Regions from separate parts of the Homo sapiens genome. Here region 1 is linked to region 2. Evidence: fine-mapped expression QTL. A gene starts in region 2. The other region holds a variant in brackets. All regions are shown on one strand. Distances are from middle to middle.

The links. PIP is the estimated chance that this variant, and not a neighbour inherited with it, causes the effect.
Region 1: its variant is fine-mapped to the expression of IL18BP in cerebellum (GTEx, PIP above 0.99). The same link has a PIP of 0.9 or more in esophagus muscle.

Annotation. Positions count from the first base shown.
Region 1 is chr11:71,727,945-71,737,198 of GRCh38, reverse strand. It overlaps the pseudogene ENPP7P8. Among named protein-coding and RNA genes, the nearest start is that of DEFB108B, 100 kb to the left of the region's middle. RefSeq lists an enhancer at 1,713-2,586. The variant G/C (reference allele first, on the strand shown) is at 4,873.
Region 2 is chr11:71,993,735-72,002,786 of GRCh38, reverse strand. IL18BP (interleukin 18 binding protein) reads right to left here and starts at 3,878. Exons shown (of 6, transcript NM_001039660.2): 1 at 3,768-3,878; 2 at 2,775-2,860; 3 at 2,230-2,436; 4 at 1,463-1,586; 5 at 1,235-1,382; 6 at 1-1,003. The coding sequence starts at 2,802. The coding sequence ends at 926. It overlaps RNF121 (ring finger protein 121), which reads right to left. Exons shown (of 9, transcript NM_018320.5): 7 at 7,935-8,068; 8 at 7,236-7,337; 9 at 5,190-6,592. The coding sequence ends at 6,472.

The sequences.
Region 1 (9,254 bases), 270 kb after region 2:
GCCACCATGCATGGCTAATTTTTGTATTTTTAGTAGAGACGAGGTTTTGCCATATTGGCCAGGCTGGTCTCGAATTCCTGGCCTCAAGTGATCCACCCACCTCAGCTTTCCAAAGTCCTAAGATTATTTAGGTGTGAGCCATGGCACCCGGCCCAGACATTGTTTGAAGCCACCCATTTCATGGTTCTTTGCTGCAGTGGTTGTGGAATATGAATGCACTCGTGCTGTTGGTTAGACTTTGCTGACCTTGTGTCTGTTATTCCCTGGCAGTTCTACAAGGCCTGGAGCTGATACGAAAAACCTCCCTTCTTTCCCAAATGGTCCCCAGCTTCCCCGTTCACTGAAGGCCCTGCAGTCAGGAACAGTCAGGACTTTGCACCCAGTTGTTGTGGGTGTTTGACCGACCCTTCCTCTTTTGTGATTCATGGACCCTTAGCATTGCATCACCTGGGAGCTTTTGGAATTGAAGACTCTCAGGGCTCACCCGGAAGGACCTCCTGGGCCAGAATCTGCATTTTAACAAGATGCCCAGGTGATTTGCATACATGTTCAGCTCTGAGAAGCTCTAGTAGGAGAGGCTTTAAGGTGGTAATTAGATCTTTTCTCCACCTGCAAGAATCTTAGTTTCTTCATGTTAAATCTATTAACTGTGGCAATGTCATGGGTGTTATAAAACAAAACAAAATCCTTACATCAAGAATGCACCCTGGTGTGTTATGGATATGGGTGAAATGAAATGTCTGGAATTTGCTTTAAAATGTCCTAAAATAGCAAGAAGGAAAAGAAAAGTGGGAACTGGAATGAGATTGGAGAAATGTTGACAAGTTCTTCCAGTGGGATGATGGGTGCATGGGGGTTCATGGTATAATTCTCTCCCTGCTTTTTGTGTATATGGGAAATTTCCATAATGAAAAGTTAGAGGTCGGGCACGGTGGCTCATGCCTGTAATCTCAGCATTTTGGGAGGCTGAGGTGGGTAGACTGCTTGAACCTAGGAGTTAAAGACCATCCTGGACAACATGGTGAAACCCCATCTCTACTAAAAATGCAAAAATTAGGCATGGTGACAACATGCCTGTAGTCATGTTGAGGCACAAGGTTGAGACATGAGAATCACTTGAACCCAGGAGGCGGAGGTTGCAGTGAGCCAAGATCGCACCATTTCACTCCAGCCTGGGTGACAGAGTGAGACTTGGTCTCAAAAAAATTTTTAATTTTCTTTTTTTTTTGAGATGGGTTCTTGCTCTTTTGCCCAGGCTGGAGTGTAGTGGTGTGATCTTGGCTCACTGCAAGCTCCACCTCCCGAGGTCACTCCATTCTTCTGCTTCAGCCTCCAGAGTAGCTGGGACTATAGGTACCCAGCACCATGTCCGGCTACTTGTTTGTATTTTTAGTAGAGATGGGGTTTCACCGTGTTAGCCAGGATGGTCTCAATCTCCTCACCTCGTGATCTGCCCACCTTGGCCTCCCAAAGTGCTGGGATTACAGGAATGAGCCATCGTGCCCAGCCTTAATTTTGTTTAATTTTTTTCTTTTTTGAGACAGGATCTGTAGCCCAGGCTGGAGTGCAGTGGTACGATCCCTGCTCACTGCAGCTTCTACCTCCTGGGTTCAAGCGATCCTCCCACCCCAGCCTCCCAAGTAGCTGAGACCACAGGCATGTATCACCACACCTGGCTAATTTTTTCCCTTTTTCTAGAGGCAAGGTCTTGCTATCTTGCCCAGGCTGGTCTTAAACTCCTGAGTTCAAGCAATCTTCCCATCTCAGCCCGGGAGTAATCCCAAAGTGCTGGGATTACAGGTGCGAGTCACTCTACCCAGCCTCAACTGTTTTTCATGACTCCACTTTTTCTCCCCTCTTGGAAATGAGTAGTCTTTGAGGGAATGTCTTTTTTGTCTCAATCTCTGGTTTCTTTACTCAGTGCACCTGCGTTTGGGGCTTTGTTGCTCTCCAGGCCTTTTTCAGCAGCGTTGTCCCTGGAGGGCAGGATGGCAGCTGATTGCTTCTCAGCATCTTTTAACTCAGTTTAAAGATGACTATCAACAACATCTAGTCAGCATCTGTTGCTCTCGGCAGCTGGGACTTCATTTCTTTTATCTTTCTCCACCTCTCTAATCTCTTTAAGTCTCTGTCTTTGTCATGGATACAGCATCACCTGTGTGGCCCTTAGGCTCTCTTACTTACATGTGATTTGCGTATTATGTCTTTACTTCAGGACTTCTCAACCAGGGGGTGATTTTGCCCCCCAGAGAACATGTGACCATGTCTGGAGACAATTTTGGTTGTTGCAGCTGGAGGAGGTGGTGCTACTGGCAGCTAATGGGTAGAGGCCAGTGATGCTGCTAAACATCCTACAATTCCCTGGACAAATCCCACTAAGACAAAATAATGATCCAGCCCCAAAGGTCAATAGTGCTGAAAGTGAGAGACCCTGATTCCATCTTAGAGATCATCCAAGCACACTTGGCCAAATTGTTTTTGCTACTGTCCCATGAAGAAAAGGCAGACTCATGACTGATGGCAACATCGATGGGAATTTTGTTTACCTCTTCTTTGTGGACCTTGGGATACGATGACTTACCATTTGTGCAAGTTGTGCATTGCATACCTCCAGGGGGCGCCACCCACATATTTATGAAAATGCCACCCCAGGAATTGCATAGTACATAGTCTACATGGCAATAAGCAGTTGCTCTGGTTTTGGGGTTGCCCTGGGGTGCTCTGGAACTGGGAGGAAATTTATTTCTGGCCATTAGAGGCCCTGAGCATGACATTGAGTATCCTTTCAAGAAAGGAGAAATGTTGAACAGAGAGGACCTCATTTTTATAACTCTTGACCATCATCTAGTTACGGAGCATCCACTTTTCACCCCTGGGCCATATCCATTTGACGGATGAAAAATCATCAAATTATAATATCATGGCTTATACTTTTGATAGCTTCTGCCCGGAACATGGCGGTAACAGCTTCTCATTTTCAATTGATTCATTGGGGGAGAAAATATACACGGCTGCCCTAAGACTTTCTATTACATACCATTTGTTTGACGGGATTTCTTTAGTTTCTGTAGCATAACTTATTCTAACTGGTCCTCAATCACTTTGCAATAAAACCTGAGATTGTGAAGATGTTCATTGTCATTTCCAGTGACGGAGCAGTAAGTACAGAGTTCTGGAGAGGGAAGGAATCGAGAGAGTTAAACTAGCAGAATGAGCCGCTCACCCTCAGAATTGCTTTTAGTCTTGGTGAGAACTGAGGGGAATTTTGACAGGGTTCAGGGGGACTGCGTGGAGTGGGGCTGGGAAGTGGCTGTTTGCACGTGTGGTCAGCAAATCCAGTGAGGGGGTCCATGTACTGTGGGCAGCCCCGCAGATGGAGTTGGGATTGCCCTAGACTGAGTACTGGGTCATCAGTACTCAAGACATTGAGGCCCAGGCTGGTGCAGGAGATACAATGCACTGCTTCAGCCTTTCTTCTATCGCTCCTCTCCAATGACAGTCCCCGATTTTCCACCGAGGAGTCACTAGTCCCCCACGACATGTGTGCGACTGGCCATTCCCCACCCTGATCTGGAGCTGGGGCATGTGGTCCCAGCCTGGATGTCAGTATCCTTCCACCACCCTGGCCACAGTGATTGGGTCTGAGAAGCAGATTAGCCAAAGGAGAAACAATCTTGGAAATTTCATGTTCATTCTTAAGAAAGTAAAATGGAAAGCGGGGGGAGGGTGAGGGGTCATTCTGATGATTTAGTTTTAGGACCTGGATGTAGCCACACCTGTAGCTGTCAACTCTGTGCCATAGTACTGCTTTTTTTTTTTTTCCTTCAAATTTAAATAGTTTCTAAAGGCAAGGTCTTGCTATGTTGCTTAGGCTGGTTTTGAAAAGTCCTTTTTGGGGGGATGCTTTCACTGCTTCACTTCCTTTCTATGACAGCTCAGGGAATCAGAAGACAAGGGAGATTTTTTTTTTTTTTTTTTTTTTTTTGGTTGAGACAGGGCTTGCTCTGTTGTCCAGGCTGGAGTGCAGTGGTGCAATCACTTCTCGCCACAGACTTGATCTTCTGGACTCAAGCGACCCTCCTGCTTCAGCCTCCTGAGTAGCTGGGACTGTAGGTGGGTACCAACATGCCCAGTTAATTAAATTTTTTTTTTTTTTTTAGAAGTGAGATCTCACTATGTCACCCAGGCTGGCCTCAAACTCCTGGGCTCAAGTGATCGCCCTGCCTTAGCTTCCCAAACATACAGGTGTGAGCCCCCACACCAGTCAACGCTGTGGTTTTATGCACCTGGTGCCCCCCTACGCCCTGAGCAATGATCCTCCTGCTTCAACCTCCCAAAGTGCTGGGATAACAGATGTGAAGCAGCACGTGTGGCCCACATAGTATTCTTATGGGTTAAATTGAGTCCTCCTCAAAACATGTTGAAATCCTGAATTCTAGTAGCTCAGAATGTGACCTTATTTAGAAATAGAGTTATTGCGGGTCAGGCGTGGTGGCTCACGCCTGTAATCCCAGCACTTTGGGAGGCCAAGGCAGGCGGATCACCTGAGGTCAGGAGTTTGAGACCAGCCTGACCAACATGGAGAAACCCCTTCTCTACTAAAAATTCAAAATTACCTGGGTGTGTTGGCACACACCTGTAATCCCAGCTACTCAGGAGGCTGAGGCAGGAGAATTGCTTGAACTCAGGAGACAGAGGTTGCATTGAGCTGAGATCGCGCTATTGCACTCCAGCCTGGGCAACAAGAGTGAAACTCCGTCTCAAAAAAAAAAAAAAAAAAAAAAGAAAGAAAGAAAGAAAGAAGGAAAGAAATAGGGTTATTGCAGATGCTATTGATTAGGATGAAGTCGTCCTGGAGTAGGGAGGGCCCAA[G/C]TCAATGACTGGTGTCCTTATAAAAGAGGAGAGGACACGCCGAGTCATAGAGACACAGGGAAGAAGGCCATGGATTGGACGGAAGATTGGACTGATGCGTATGCAAACCAAGAAACACTGAAGACTGCCAGGAGACCACAGGAAGCTACGAAGAGGCAAGGCAGGACTCCCCGACAAGTGCAGGAGGGAGCATGGCCCTGCTGGCACCTCCGTTTCAGACTGCTGGCTACCAGAGCCACAAGACAATCAATTTCTCTGGTTTCAAGTCACCCAGCTTTTGGTACTTGGTTGTGGCATCCCTAGGGAATGAATATAAGTACTTTCTCTTTTTTTTTTCTTTTTTTGAGATGGAGTCTCGCTCTGTTGCCCAGGCTGGAGTGCAGTGGTGAGATCTCGGCTCACTGCAGGCTCCGCCTCCTGGGTTCATGCCATTCTCCTGCCTCAGCCTCCTGAGTAGCTGGGACTACAGGCGCCCGCCACCACGCCCAGCTAATTTTTTGTATTTTTAATAGAGACAAGATTTCACCGTGTTAGCCAGGATGGTCTCCATCTCCTGACCTCATGATCCGCCTGCCTCAGTCTCCCAAAGTGCTGCGATTACAGGCATGAGCCACCACGCCCGGCCGAATATAAGTACTTTTAAATTAACTCTCCTCTTCTCTCCGTCTTCTTCTAAATCATCATTTTTGCCTAAGCAACAGCTAGGGTCTAATATGGATGTGACGACTCACCTCAAAGTGGGGTAAGCCCCCATGTGCACCAAAAGCTCCTGCTGCCTTGGCCCTGGGTTCAGAGAGTGGACCATCATTCTGGAGGCTTGCTGGAGATCTGAGCCAGGCCACAATTCTCTGTTGCCTTTAAACAAAGGCTGGTGCTCGCCCAGGCATGTAAGCTCCACCGAGGATCTATTTGGAAGACAGAATTCTGAGATGACCCCTTAGGTTCTTGCCCTGGATAAATGCCAGGTGTAATCTCCTCTCCCCTGGAGTGTAGGCAGGACCCATGGCTTGCTTCTAATCTATACCTATGAAAAAGTTGAAGGAATTTTGCAGATGTAACTAAGCCCCTAATCCATTCACTTTGAGTTAATCAAAAGGGAGATTATTCAGGGTGGGCCTGACATCTTCAGGTGAGATCTTCAATGAAGGTCTGGAGGAGAGAGACTCCTTCCTCCTGGTTTTTGTTTTTTGTTTGTTTGTTTGTTTTTGACATGGAGTCTCACTCTGTTGCCCAGGCTGGAGTGCAGTGGTACGATCTCGGCTTACTGCAACCTCTGCCTCCTGGGTTCAAGTGATTCTCCTTGAGAATCATGCCCGGCTAAGTTATGTAGAGATGGGGTTTCACCATATTGGCCAGGCTGGTCTCGAACTCCTGACATCAGGTGATCCACCTGCCTCGGCCTCCGAAAGTGCTGGGATTACAGGCGTGAGCCACCATGCCTGGCTGGTTTTGAAGAAGCCAGCCACATGAGTTCCACAGTTGCATGGAAATAAATTCTGCCAACAACCATGTGAGGTTGGGAGAAGACCCCAAGCCTCATATGACACACTAATTCCAGCCGGCACCTTGATCACAACCTTGTAAGAACCTGAGCAGAGGACCCAGCTAAAGCTGCACCCCCAGACTCATGACCCACAGGAAAGGAGAGGTAATAGATGGATGTTTTAAGCTGCTAAATTTGTGTTGATTTGTTATGCAGCTTAGAAAATGAATACATCATTCCATTTTTAAAAAATCATAAGCTAATCACACCATTCGATTTCTTTTTTTTTTTTTTTTCAGACAGAGTCTCACTCTATCGCCCAGGCTGGAGTTCAATTGCACAATCTTGGCTCACTGTAACCTCTGCCTCCCAGGTTCAAGTGATTCCCTTGCCTCAGCTCCCCAAGTAGCTGGGACTACAGGCAAGCACAACCACCCCCAGCTAATTTTTATATTTTTAGTAGAGATGGAGTTTCACCATTTTGGCCAGGCTGGTCTCGAACTCCTGACCTCAAGTGACCTGCCTGCCTCAGCCTCCCAAAGTGCTGGGGTTACTGACATGAGCCACCGCACCCGGCCTGACACACCACTCAACTTTAAGGAACTTCCAGGTGCTGTGGTCATGCCCTTCTTGTGTGGCATGCAGGTGGGGAGAGATGGGTTGGAAGATGACTGGATGGGGGCATGGAGCTAGGTGGGAAGAGGAAAAGTGTCTTGAAGGAAGTAAGTCCCTTCAGATAAGGGAGGGAGAAGCTTGATCAATATGCAGACTTTCACAGTCCTTCAGTCCTGGGGATATTGGTGGAGGGACAAGTCTTGCCTTATATTTGAGAGTTACCATCCCAGGCAGAGTCCCTACTTCCACATTCTTGCAGGTGGGGCTGGGGAGCAAATACTTAGAGGAGAAACGAACACCCTTTGTAAGCATGTGAAAAGTTTCTGGAGTGGAGAGATGATGAAGCAGGATATTTGGAGTCAACAGCCAAAGTTTTTATTTTATATTTTATTTTTTATTATACTTTAAGTTTTAGGGTACATGTGCACAACGTGCAGGTTTGTTACATATGCATACATGTGCCATGTTGGTGTGCTGTACCCATTAACTCGTCATTTAACATTAGGTATATCTCTTAATGCTATTCCTCCCCCCTCCCCTGACCCCACAACAGGCCCCAGTGTGTGATGTTCCCCTTCCTGTGTCCGTGTGTTCTCATTGTTTAATTCCTACCTGTGAGTGAGAACATGCGGTGTTTGGTTTTTTGTCCTTGCAATAGTTTGCTGAGAATGATGGTTTCCAGCTTCATCCATGTCTCTACAAAGGACGTAAACTCATCATTTTTTATGGCTGCATAGTATTCCATGGTGTATATGTGCCACATTTTCTTAATCCAGTCTATCGTTGTTGGACATTTGGCTTGGTTCCAAGCCTTTGCTATTGTGAATAGTGCCATTATAAACATACGTGTGCATGTGTCTTTATAGCAGCATGATTTATAATCCTTTGGGTATATACCCAGTAATGGGATGGCTGGGTCAAATGGTATTTCTAGTTCTAGATCCCTGAGAAATTGCCACACTGAATTCCACAATGGTTGAACTAGTTTACAGTCCCACCAACAGTGTAAAAGTGTTCCTATTTCTCCACATCCTCTTCAGCACCTGTTGTTTCCTGACTTGTTAATGATCGCCATTCTAACTGGTGTGAGATGGTATCTCATTGTTGTTTTGACTTGCATTTCTCTGGCCAGGGATGATGAGCATTTTTTTCAAGTGTCTTTTGGCTGCATAAATGTCTTCTTTTGAGAAGTGTCTGTTCATATCCTTTGCCCACTTTTTGATGGGATTGTTTGTTTTTTTCTTGTAAATTTATTGGAGCTCATTGTAGATTCTGGATATTAGCCCTTTGTCAGATGAGTAGATTGCAAAAAATTTCTCCCATTCTGTAGGTTGCCTGTTCACTCTGATGGTAGTTTCTTTTGCTGTGCAGAAGCTCTTTAGTTTAATTAGATCCCATTTGTTAATTTTGGTTTTTCTTGCCATTGCTTTTGGTGTTTTAGACATGAAGTTCTTGCCCATGCCTATATCCTGAATGGTATTGCTGAGGTTTTCTTCTAGGGTTTTTATGGTTTTAGGTCTAATATTTAAGTCTTTAATCCATCTTGGATTAATTTTTGTATAAGGTGTAAGGAAGGGATCCAGTTTCAGCTTTCTACATATGGCTAGCCAGTTTTCCCAGCACAATTTATTAAATAGGGAATCCTTTCCCCATTGCTTGTTTTTGTCAGGTTTGTCAAAGATCAGATGGTTGTAGATATGTGGCATTATTTCTGAGGGCTCTGTTATGTTCCATTGGTCTATATCTCTGTTTTTGTACCAGTACCATGATGTTTTGATTACTGTAGGCTTGCAGTATAGTTTGAAGTCAGGTAGCGTGGTGTCTCCAGCTTTGTTCTTTTGGCTTAGGATTGACTTAGCAATGTGGGCTCTTTTTTGGTTCCATATGAACTTTAAAGCAGTTTTTTCCAATTCTGTGAAGAAAGTCATTGGTAACTTGATGGGGATGGCATTGAATCTATAAATTACCTTGGGCAGTATGTCCATTTTCACGATATTGATTCTTCCTACCCATGAGCATGGAATGTTATTCCATTTGTTTGTGTCCTCTTTTATTTCTTTGAGCAGTGGTTTATAGTTCTCCTTGAAGAGGTCCTTCACCTCCCTTGTAAGTTGGATTCATAGGTATTTTATTCTCTTTGAAGCAATTGTGAATGGGAGTTCACTCATGATTTGGCTCTCTGTTTGTCTGTATTGGTATATAAGAATGCTTGTGATTTTTGCACATTGATTTTGTATCCTGAGACTTTGCTGAAGTTGCCTATCAGCTTAAGGAGATTTTGGGC
Region 2 (9,052 bases):
TCCATACCACCTCCTTTCTCTCATCCCTTTTCCTGAGGCCACATCTTTCCAGGCTCTTCCCACTCTCCATTAGTGGCCTCTGCTCCCGGGGAGCATTATGGGCTGTTCTCTCTTTTCTTTTTCAAGCGCCTGTGTTCCCCTGAAGCAGGTGTTGTCTTCAGCTTCTGTGTGGCAGTCCCTCTCTCCCATACTCCCTCGTGGGACAGGCAAAGTTCCTGGGAGTGGAACTGAAGCCTAAATGAACAGATGTCAGGATGCCTCCATTGAATAATCCTTTATGAGGACCCATGTGGGGATGACACAGATACAGTGTGGATCCGAAGCAGCTGCTGCCCCCATCCCTTCCCTGGAACAGTCCATTAGAGTGAAGGGGGAAAAAAAAAACATACAGCACGAAGATAGGAAGTCTGCAGAATGCGGCCAGAGCTGAAAGAGGATGACTTCACTGAAGAGGCAGCATTTCAACCAGGCTTGAGCGTTCCCCTGCTGGGGCGGTGAGGAAGACGGGACTAAATGAGCAGAGACATGGGAGTGGGAGCTGTCTGGGAAAAGCAAGAATAGTTGGGAGGCTTCCAGAAAGTCATGTGGGAAATGCAGGTAGGGCCCTGGAGTGCAAGGCTAAGGCATCAACAGTCTTGGTGGTTTCTGAGCAGTAGAGCAGTGTGAGGAGTAGGACGTTAGGAAGGCTAATGGATAGGTGGAGAGAGAATGGCAGGAGGAGGAGGCATTATAAGGAGGCTGTGATTTTCTAGGTAGGTGGGAATGGAGTTTGAATTTGGTGAGAGAAGGGACCCAAAGCAGAGAAGGAGGGGGTGTGTTGCGCATCCACGCAGCCTACAGGCAGTCAGGGACTGTTCACTCCAGGTAGACAGGTAGGACCCAAGCTCTGGTCAAGGTTGTGCTGCTGCTGGCCCTGTGCTGAGTCTTAACCCTGCTGCTGTGGACTGCTGTGGCTGGAGGGCAGGGCTTCTTGGGTGGGGGGCAAGGTTGCCCTCAGCCCAGCCTAGGGAAGTGAAGGCAGACAAGGATCAGGCCAAGGAAAGGAGGGACATCTCATCACTTTGCCCCAGGCTACACCTCCTCTGCCCAAGACCTAAGTTCCTTTTTGTCTGGCTGACCTTGAGGAATGCTGGGCATTAGTTCACAGGCTGCTCTGGCAGAGCCCACCCTTTCCTCCCCACATATGGAAGCAGAGCTCCTCCTGTTCCTGGAGGCCTCTCCTTGGGCTCCTCACCCAGAGCTGGGCCAGGACGACGTGACGCTGGACAACCTGTTCAGGGTCCACGAGCACACAGGAGAAGTTGGTGCTGTGCAGGGCAGGGGTCAGCTGCTCCAGCACCAAGGCCTTGCACAGCTGCGTACCTGTGCTCCCACGTTCCCGGCTGGAGCGGAAGGGAAGGAAAGGTCATGAGAAGGCCGCAGAAGGCCTCCTTCCCACCCACCTGGCTGCTGCGACCCTCACCTGGTGCTCCCCTCCCACAGTCGGCCTGGGAGGTGCTCAATGAAGGAACCATTGCCCAGCCAGTAGAGGATGCTGAAGTTGGGGAAGCGGCTGCAGGCCACACAGGATAAGCTCAGCGTTCCATCTAGGGACACAGGCAGCAGTTAGCTCTTCAGAAGAGCAGGCCCTTCCCCTACCCTGCTCTGCTGTGCCCTCCCTGCCAGCTCCCCCCAGTCCCCATGCATCTGGAACCTAGAGAACTGCTCTGCACACCACCTAGGTGGGAACGTCCGTTACAGAAGTGCAGTTGTCTCCGAGAGGCCCTAGCCCTAAACACGGGGAATGTGAGGAATGGTCCTTGGTTCACGTGATGAATCCTCTTCTGAACCTGTCTCCTCAGGATGACCTTTTCTAGTGCCCAGCCTCGGTGACTTGGGAGCCCAGGTGACAAAGGCAGTGCTGGATGGCTGCTGCTCCTCTGAGATGGCCAGAGGCCAGCAGGCTCTGGGTGGAGGGGCTGGCCTTGGGGTCCACTGCAACCAAGGCTCTGGGAGGTCCTGTGACCATTACTTATGTCTTGAGTTCTCTGTCCTATTTGATAGGGAGCATCTTGGGAGCTGCGCCAAGCCTGCACCCATGACACTGGGTTGGGGAGGGAGAATGGTGCGTGCTCAGCCCAGCTGGCTCAGCTGGTGGTACATGGGCAGAAGGGGACTGGCGCTCAGGAGTCAACCCGACCCTGGGAACCTCTGTGCCCATAGCCCACCCTCCACCACTGTGCTTCTTACTCAGTGGCACTTCCACCTCTGGCCAGGTCACTTCCAATGCTGGACACTGCTTAGCTGCTGGGAACACTGGGGGCTGGGAGGGGCAGGGGTCCTTTGTGCTTCTAACTGAGGCAGTGGCAGCTGTGGTGGTCTGCGAGACAGGTGTGGCTCTGACCAGGAGAGTGACGACGTGGGCACACAGGAGCAGGACCCACAAAGGGCTGAGGTCTGAGGAAAGGACAGTTACAGGTCAGCGGCTCTGGAGACAGAGTGGGCTGCCCGGGTAAGGATGTAACTCCAGCCCAGAGATGTCTGGGTTCTAGCCAGGGAATCAGAGCGGGAAGAGGGACCCCTCAGCACCCACCCCTTAGCCCTTTATTGAACAGAGTACAGAGAAGCTTTAGACTGGAGCCAGAGCTACAATATCTGCCCAGGTTCTTAAAGCAACAGCACCAGGTGCGCTGGGTGGTTTGCCTTGGAGTGAAGGCTCCGGGTTAGCCCATTGCTCCATTCTGTTCATAGACCTCACCCTACCCCGCCTGCCCATGCGTAGCCCCAAGGCCTACCTGGTGTCCAGTTGTGTCTCATGGTCATGATGCATGCGTCAGGAGCTGGTGAGCCTGGCTCTTTATCTGTGACAACGTCCTCTTCTCTGGTGAAAGGTGGGGGAGGAGAATGGTAAACCACTCCCGCTTTTTCTCAGTAGCTGGCTTTTCCTCAGTAGCTGGCTTCTCCTCCCGTAGCATAGCCTGGAGCTCTTTCAGCACTTAGAAACAGAGCTGGGGGGGTCAAGTGACAATCCTTCCCCACCCCAGCTCTCATGACCACAAATGGTTGTAAGATGCTTACCTAGTCCAATCTTACCCCTTCATTAGGGAAGGCAAAATTGAGACCCAAAGAGAGAATATGGACTCACCCAGTCACACAGGGAGGCAGTGCTCTCTTCAGCACCAGAGCTGCTTCTGGGAAGGGCAGGATGCCGAGCAATCCTTCTGGGAAAGCACTGCCCCGACCCTCTATTTCACTTTCACTTTTTAACCAGGGAATCTTGAGCAGCTGTGACACCTCTGCTTTAGCCAAAGTTCAGTGGCCAGAAACCTTCAGCTCCTGGGACTCCTACTCTCCAGAGGATACCAGACTGGGATCTCTAATCTACCCCCATGCCACCCCCAGGGTCACCTAGGGTATGAACTAGATGAGTCTCTCACAGATCAATTCTGTCCCGCCCAAGTGTCAGGACTTTGGTGTCCGCCTCCCCTCTTCACAGCCAGGTCTTTGTTTCCATATGAACAGGCATCTGCTTCCTCCTTCACCTTCACACTGACATTCAAGGGGACAACTTTCCTAGGCACTGGGGAACCCCAAGTTGGACCACTTCAGGCTCAATGCCATACCAGTCCGTCCACATCCTGGCCTTTCCCAGGCTACCCACTCCCCCAGCCACCAGCCCCAAGGTCGGCTACATCTCCCAGCACCCACCATCACACCCTCTGTCTCTCATCCTAGCCCCTCTGGCCAGAGCCACAGGTCTAGGTTCACTAGTAGTCCCAGACTCCTACCTGGCTCCTAAGAGGTCCTGAAGAGCCTTCCTTTCCAGAAGCTTCCCTCTAGGAGCTCCAAGACTCAAGTTAGCTGTGTCTAGCTGCGTGTGAACCCACCACAGGAAATACACCGAGAGCACTTCCTCCTTGTCTGTAGAACTCTCACGGCCAACCCAGGAACTGGCACACAAGCTCGAGAGCCAACCCTAACAGGAGGGAAGGGCAGGCACTTCCCGGGGAAGAGGCGGACTGGCTCAACACTGGCTCTGGCAACAGAGTCTACATCAGAATATGAATCTTGTCACTGATGGGACAAATGGCGCTGGGGCTGCGGGAGGGCCAGGATTCAGGGTGAGGCGTGTGAGGAACCTAGGATGCTAAATCTAAGGAGGTTTTCTCTCAGGGTCATGCAGTTATCCATGGAGGCAGAAAGACCAGGGCTGGGTGATCCAATGCATGCATATATTAAGTGTGGACAGGAGCTGCATGTCTGAGGTTTGTGACTCCTGTGATTGGGAGGGTGCAACGGCTGGTGACAGAGCCAGGGAGGCCCACAGATGGAACTGGGTTTGGTGGATGCATCAGGAACACAGTCAGCTGTGATCTCAAACTTCTTGTAGAAAAACCAGATTCATATTCCTAATTTAGACATAGGATACTACAAGTCACATCCTTCTTCTCTAGGTGTCTAGTTCATGTTTTTCCTCCTCTCAATTCCTCCCCCTACCTCCTGCCCCAGGGGCTTCTAGCATGTAAGATGCAGGAGAAATTCCTCCCAAGAACACCAGCATCTCCAGGAGTTAGGTCAGGAGGCAAGGCTGCCTGGGGTTTCTGAGAGAGACAGTCCAGTGGGGGATGGTAGGGAAAGATGACAGGACTCTGTCTTAGTGGAACCGAGACCAGAGTCAGGCCAAGGGGGGAGGTCAAGGGACTCAGAACTGTTACACATGAAAAGAGCTTTGGACAGCCTGGCCTCGGCTTCTCACCTGAGCCTGACAGGGGGGTGGGGGGAAAAAGTAAAAGGAAGGGTGATCCCTAGGTCCTCTGACCAGCCCCATTCCCCTCTCTGAGGAGGGGAACAGCCCCACAGGTGGCATAAGCAGCAGGGTACCATGGGAAGCCACAGCTGGGGAAGAGAAGCCGAGCCTGAGTGTGGTCCTCAGGAAGGCAGGTGGTGGCGGGACACTGTCCTCAGGCAGTGAGAACATAGAGCAACCTCAGTCTGAAGGCAGGCCCAATGATGCCCCAGGCCCCCAGGCCACAGGACAGGAGCCTGGCATTCCACCACTCCTAGGGATGTCAGCAGGGGAACAGCTGGGAACAGCAGAAAGGCAGGCCCAACCACCCCCAGACCCTCAGGTCTCCGATGGGGGTTAACAAAGGCAAGACACCCCTGGGGACCCCAGGGAAAGAGGTGGGAAGAAGAAAGCAAGATAAATGTTCAGCTTTCCAACCCAGCTCATGGAGCTTTATTCAGACGGGAGTGACAACATCCTGCTTCGTTCTTGCTGCCCTTGAAGGGGCAGGCCCTACTGAGCCATATTCCCTAGAAACCCAATGCCGAAGGCCCATGTTTGACCTCCCACTTTATTCAAGTCGCCTAGGACTAGGGCTGGGGCCTTCCTAGAAGCCCCCTCTCAGAACCTGTTCTCACCCACCCACCACTCCCGTTGTCAGGCCCAGGGAGGACCCATGAATGACAAAAATCATGTAGGGATATTCCCTGGACTGGGAATCCCCTGCCAGCTTCAAGGACATATCATCTGACACAGGGAGAAGCTGACATCTGTCATATTCTTCTGCCTCACGTACACACACACACACACACACACACGCATACGCACTCTTAGGCTTTCAAGAAGGAAGTGATGTGGCAGAGTGACCGCTGGCACGTGTCACCACTCCACTGAAGGATCCACTGAAGAATGAGCTTGCACAAGGGGCCGTCAGTCATGGCTGCCAACAATTGCCCCATGGCCCAACTATATGACCTCTATTCTTGGCTGACCACAGCCCTGCCCACGGGCGAGTATCCATGGTGCTGATTCTTCCAGTTGTCCCAAAACAAATCTTCAATGAATTCTGAGGCCCCAAGGCTTCCCTTGTTGGCCAAGTCACTGATAAGGTTCCACTTGCCTCAACCAGCCTATAGCTCTTGGACAGGGGGAGACAGAGTCAGACGCAACACCTGTCCTGTGTCCCAGACAGTGGGGGAGGGAGGACACCTGGGGCCTCAGTGCTCACCCGTGGCACAAGCCTGAGTACGTTAGCTCTTCTATACTAAGTGCACCAGGCTTGAGCCCCACACAGGGAAGAAGGGAGTGGGTGGGCTGAGGCCTTCAGCTACCTGGGAGCCCAGCAGTGTTCTCGGCCAGAGATGAGAAGGCTCCTTTAAACCAAAAATGTCATGGCTCTGCCCCCACCCTGCTTAGGCAGGGAGGGTGAAGCCTGGAGGGGGGCAATTCCTATGCTCCACAATAAAAAAAGGTTTTTTAAATATATTCATCAAAATAGTTTTCTTTTAAAAAGCCCCCCACTGCTGACAGCCCCACTGGCTGGCTCTCCATCATATCCCTCCCCAGTCCGACACAGCCAGAGGGGTCCTGAGTGGCCCAAGCACCCCTTTGAGTCTTTCCCACCCAGGAGGTCTTTGTGGGCAGGGAGGAGAGTGCCCTGAGGTCCATGGCGTGTGGGGTGGGTTTTCCACTGATGCTCTTCATCACTATTCCAGGCCCAGGATGTAGTTGATGCCTTGGACTACACCAATGATGACAGGCTGCCAGGCTACCAAGTATCGAAGCCAGTCCAGCAGTTGCCCATACATGACGTGAGGCCTCTCCCAGCTGTCAGTGTGTTAAAGAAAAGAGACTCTGTGCAAGAGCTGCCAGGAGTGATCTAGCATGGGTGGTGGGGCTCCCTGGGTCTGCCCCACTTTCCAGCTGCTCCACAGCCTAGAGGAATGGAGGCTGCTTTCTGGAAGGGCCCAGCCTCACTTCCTACTCAGGCAGCCCTCCCAACTTTGCCCTCCCCCTCCTCTTCCTCCTCACAGCCTGTCTGTTGGGGTAAAGAGCTGAATGCAGAGAAGGTGGGAGGCAGATAGAGGGGACTGGTACTGGAGGCAGGGCAGCCCTGAGAGAGGTATAGAGATAAATCCTAGTTCCCCATGACTAACATGCAGGGAGGGCCTCCTGTAACACCTTCTCTAAGAAGGAACTGCCAGTGTAAGATAACACAGCCTGAGGCTGACACAAGTCTATCTATCCGTGACAATGGCTGCAAGGAGGCTGAGAATAGGCAATAATCCTAGAATAGGGAAACTGGGGTTGTATCATGGGGGCAGGACTAGCAGCTCAGCTTCCCACCATGGTTTGACATGTTCTGGTTGGGGGCAGAAGTGAGGGCCCCAGGAGGACCCAAATGCAGGTCACACTGGCCAGTACTTTCTTCCCACAGCCCACTCCCAACAACGACCCCAATAAAGGATACGGATTGCTGAACATCCTCTTGAGGTCTACCTTCTCTTTGCAGTAGGGACACGTTTGCTTCTTTCCCACGATGCACCAGCCACGGATGCAGAACTCGTGGAAGCTGAGCACCGCTGGTCAAGGGAAATGGTGAGAGCCAGGGCGGCACTCCAGCCCCAGACAGTCTTTGAAAGGTTCAAATCCTGCCTTCGCTCTTTATCAGCTCTGTAATGTTGGGCAAGTCCCTGTGTCTGAACCTGTTTCCTCACATGTGAAGTAAGGATAATGATCCCTATCTCACAAGACTGTTATGGGGCAAAATGGAGACAATACATGGCTTTCCCAACATAGGCAGAGAATGGGAGCTGGGTAAATACATGATAAATATTACAAGTGTTATTCAGAACAGAGGATGATGCTAAACTGAGGGATCCCATTAGAGGGTCCTCTTCCCCTGTGACTGGTCAGATCTCAGGTCTGCTAGCACAGCCTCACTAGCTGCAGCCTCAGGTTCCTCTCAGACCCAGCCAGGTTGTAACCACTGTTTACCTAAGAGTGGCTCTGATCTGTGGGAAAGGGTAGGGAAGGTGGCCCTCTTGTGGCTCTCCTACACTCAAGGGTCTGGACAGCATGCCTAGGGTCATGACCACCCTCTTTCTCTCTCTCACTACAGTGTGCAGATTGCAGGAGAGATGTGGCCCAGGAGCTCGAGGCAGGATACACATGATTGCAGGACAGCCTATACGTGTTCTCAATGATCCCCTCTTCACTGACGTCCACAAAGATCTGCTGCCCACACACAGCACACACACTGTCTGAAAGATGTTTGGTAGGCATGCCCGACTCGCTGTAGAACTGAAGGAGAATAGCAGGAAGGAAAGATAGGAAAAGATGTGAGAAGCAGCCAAAGTAGGAAGCTCCACAGAGACCTCAGGCCTTCTAGAGAAGAGGCACAGTGGCAGCGGGAGGCCCAGAGTTAGAGGACATCTTTTTTTTTTTAAACTGTTTAGAAAAGGTAATCTTTTACAAGTCAAATCGACCTCATCTTTGCTGGGCAGATGGGGAGAAGTGACCAGACTAGAGACAGTTGGGAAGTTAGATGTAACAGAACCTATAAACTGGGCTGGATCAGCACCAAAGGATAAGGGGAAGGGGAGGGAGAAGGACTTGGGGCTGGTGATCAAAAGCTGTGTCAGGCAAGCCATTCTGTCGCCAGACTATGGTTCCACCAGAAATGGACAACAATATTCTCCAACATTTAAAACAGTGAAATATTAAGTGCCATGTTGGTTTGGTGACAAGGGCATTCTCAGACATTTGTGGCAGCAGCAAAAGGGGTTCAAGCCTTTCAGATAGGATTTAGCATGGTATCTCAAATTGTTGCACCTTTTGACCCATTAATTTCACTTCAAGGAATTTAAAGAAATAAGAGGAGGCTGGGCGCGGTGGCTGACGCCTGTAACCCCAGCACTTTGGGAGGCCAAGGAGGGCGGATCACGAGGTCAGGAGATCGAGAGCATCCTAACTAACACAGTGAAACCCCGTCTCTACTAAAAATACAAAAAATTAGCCAGGCATGGTGGGGGGCGCCTGTAGTCCCAGCTACTCAGGAGGCTGAGGCAGGAGAATGGCGTGAACCCGGGAGGCAGAGCTTGCAGTGAGCCGAGATCGCACCACTGCACTCCAGCCTGGGCAACAGACCGAGACTCCATCTCAAAAAAAAAAAAAAAAAGAGGAAGTGTCAAAGAAGCTTCATGAATACAGATATTCACTTAAGCATTATCATAATTAAGAAAGCAAAGAGTTTGGCATGTCCTCAAAAAGTTAAACATAAAATTA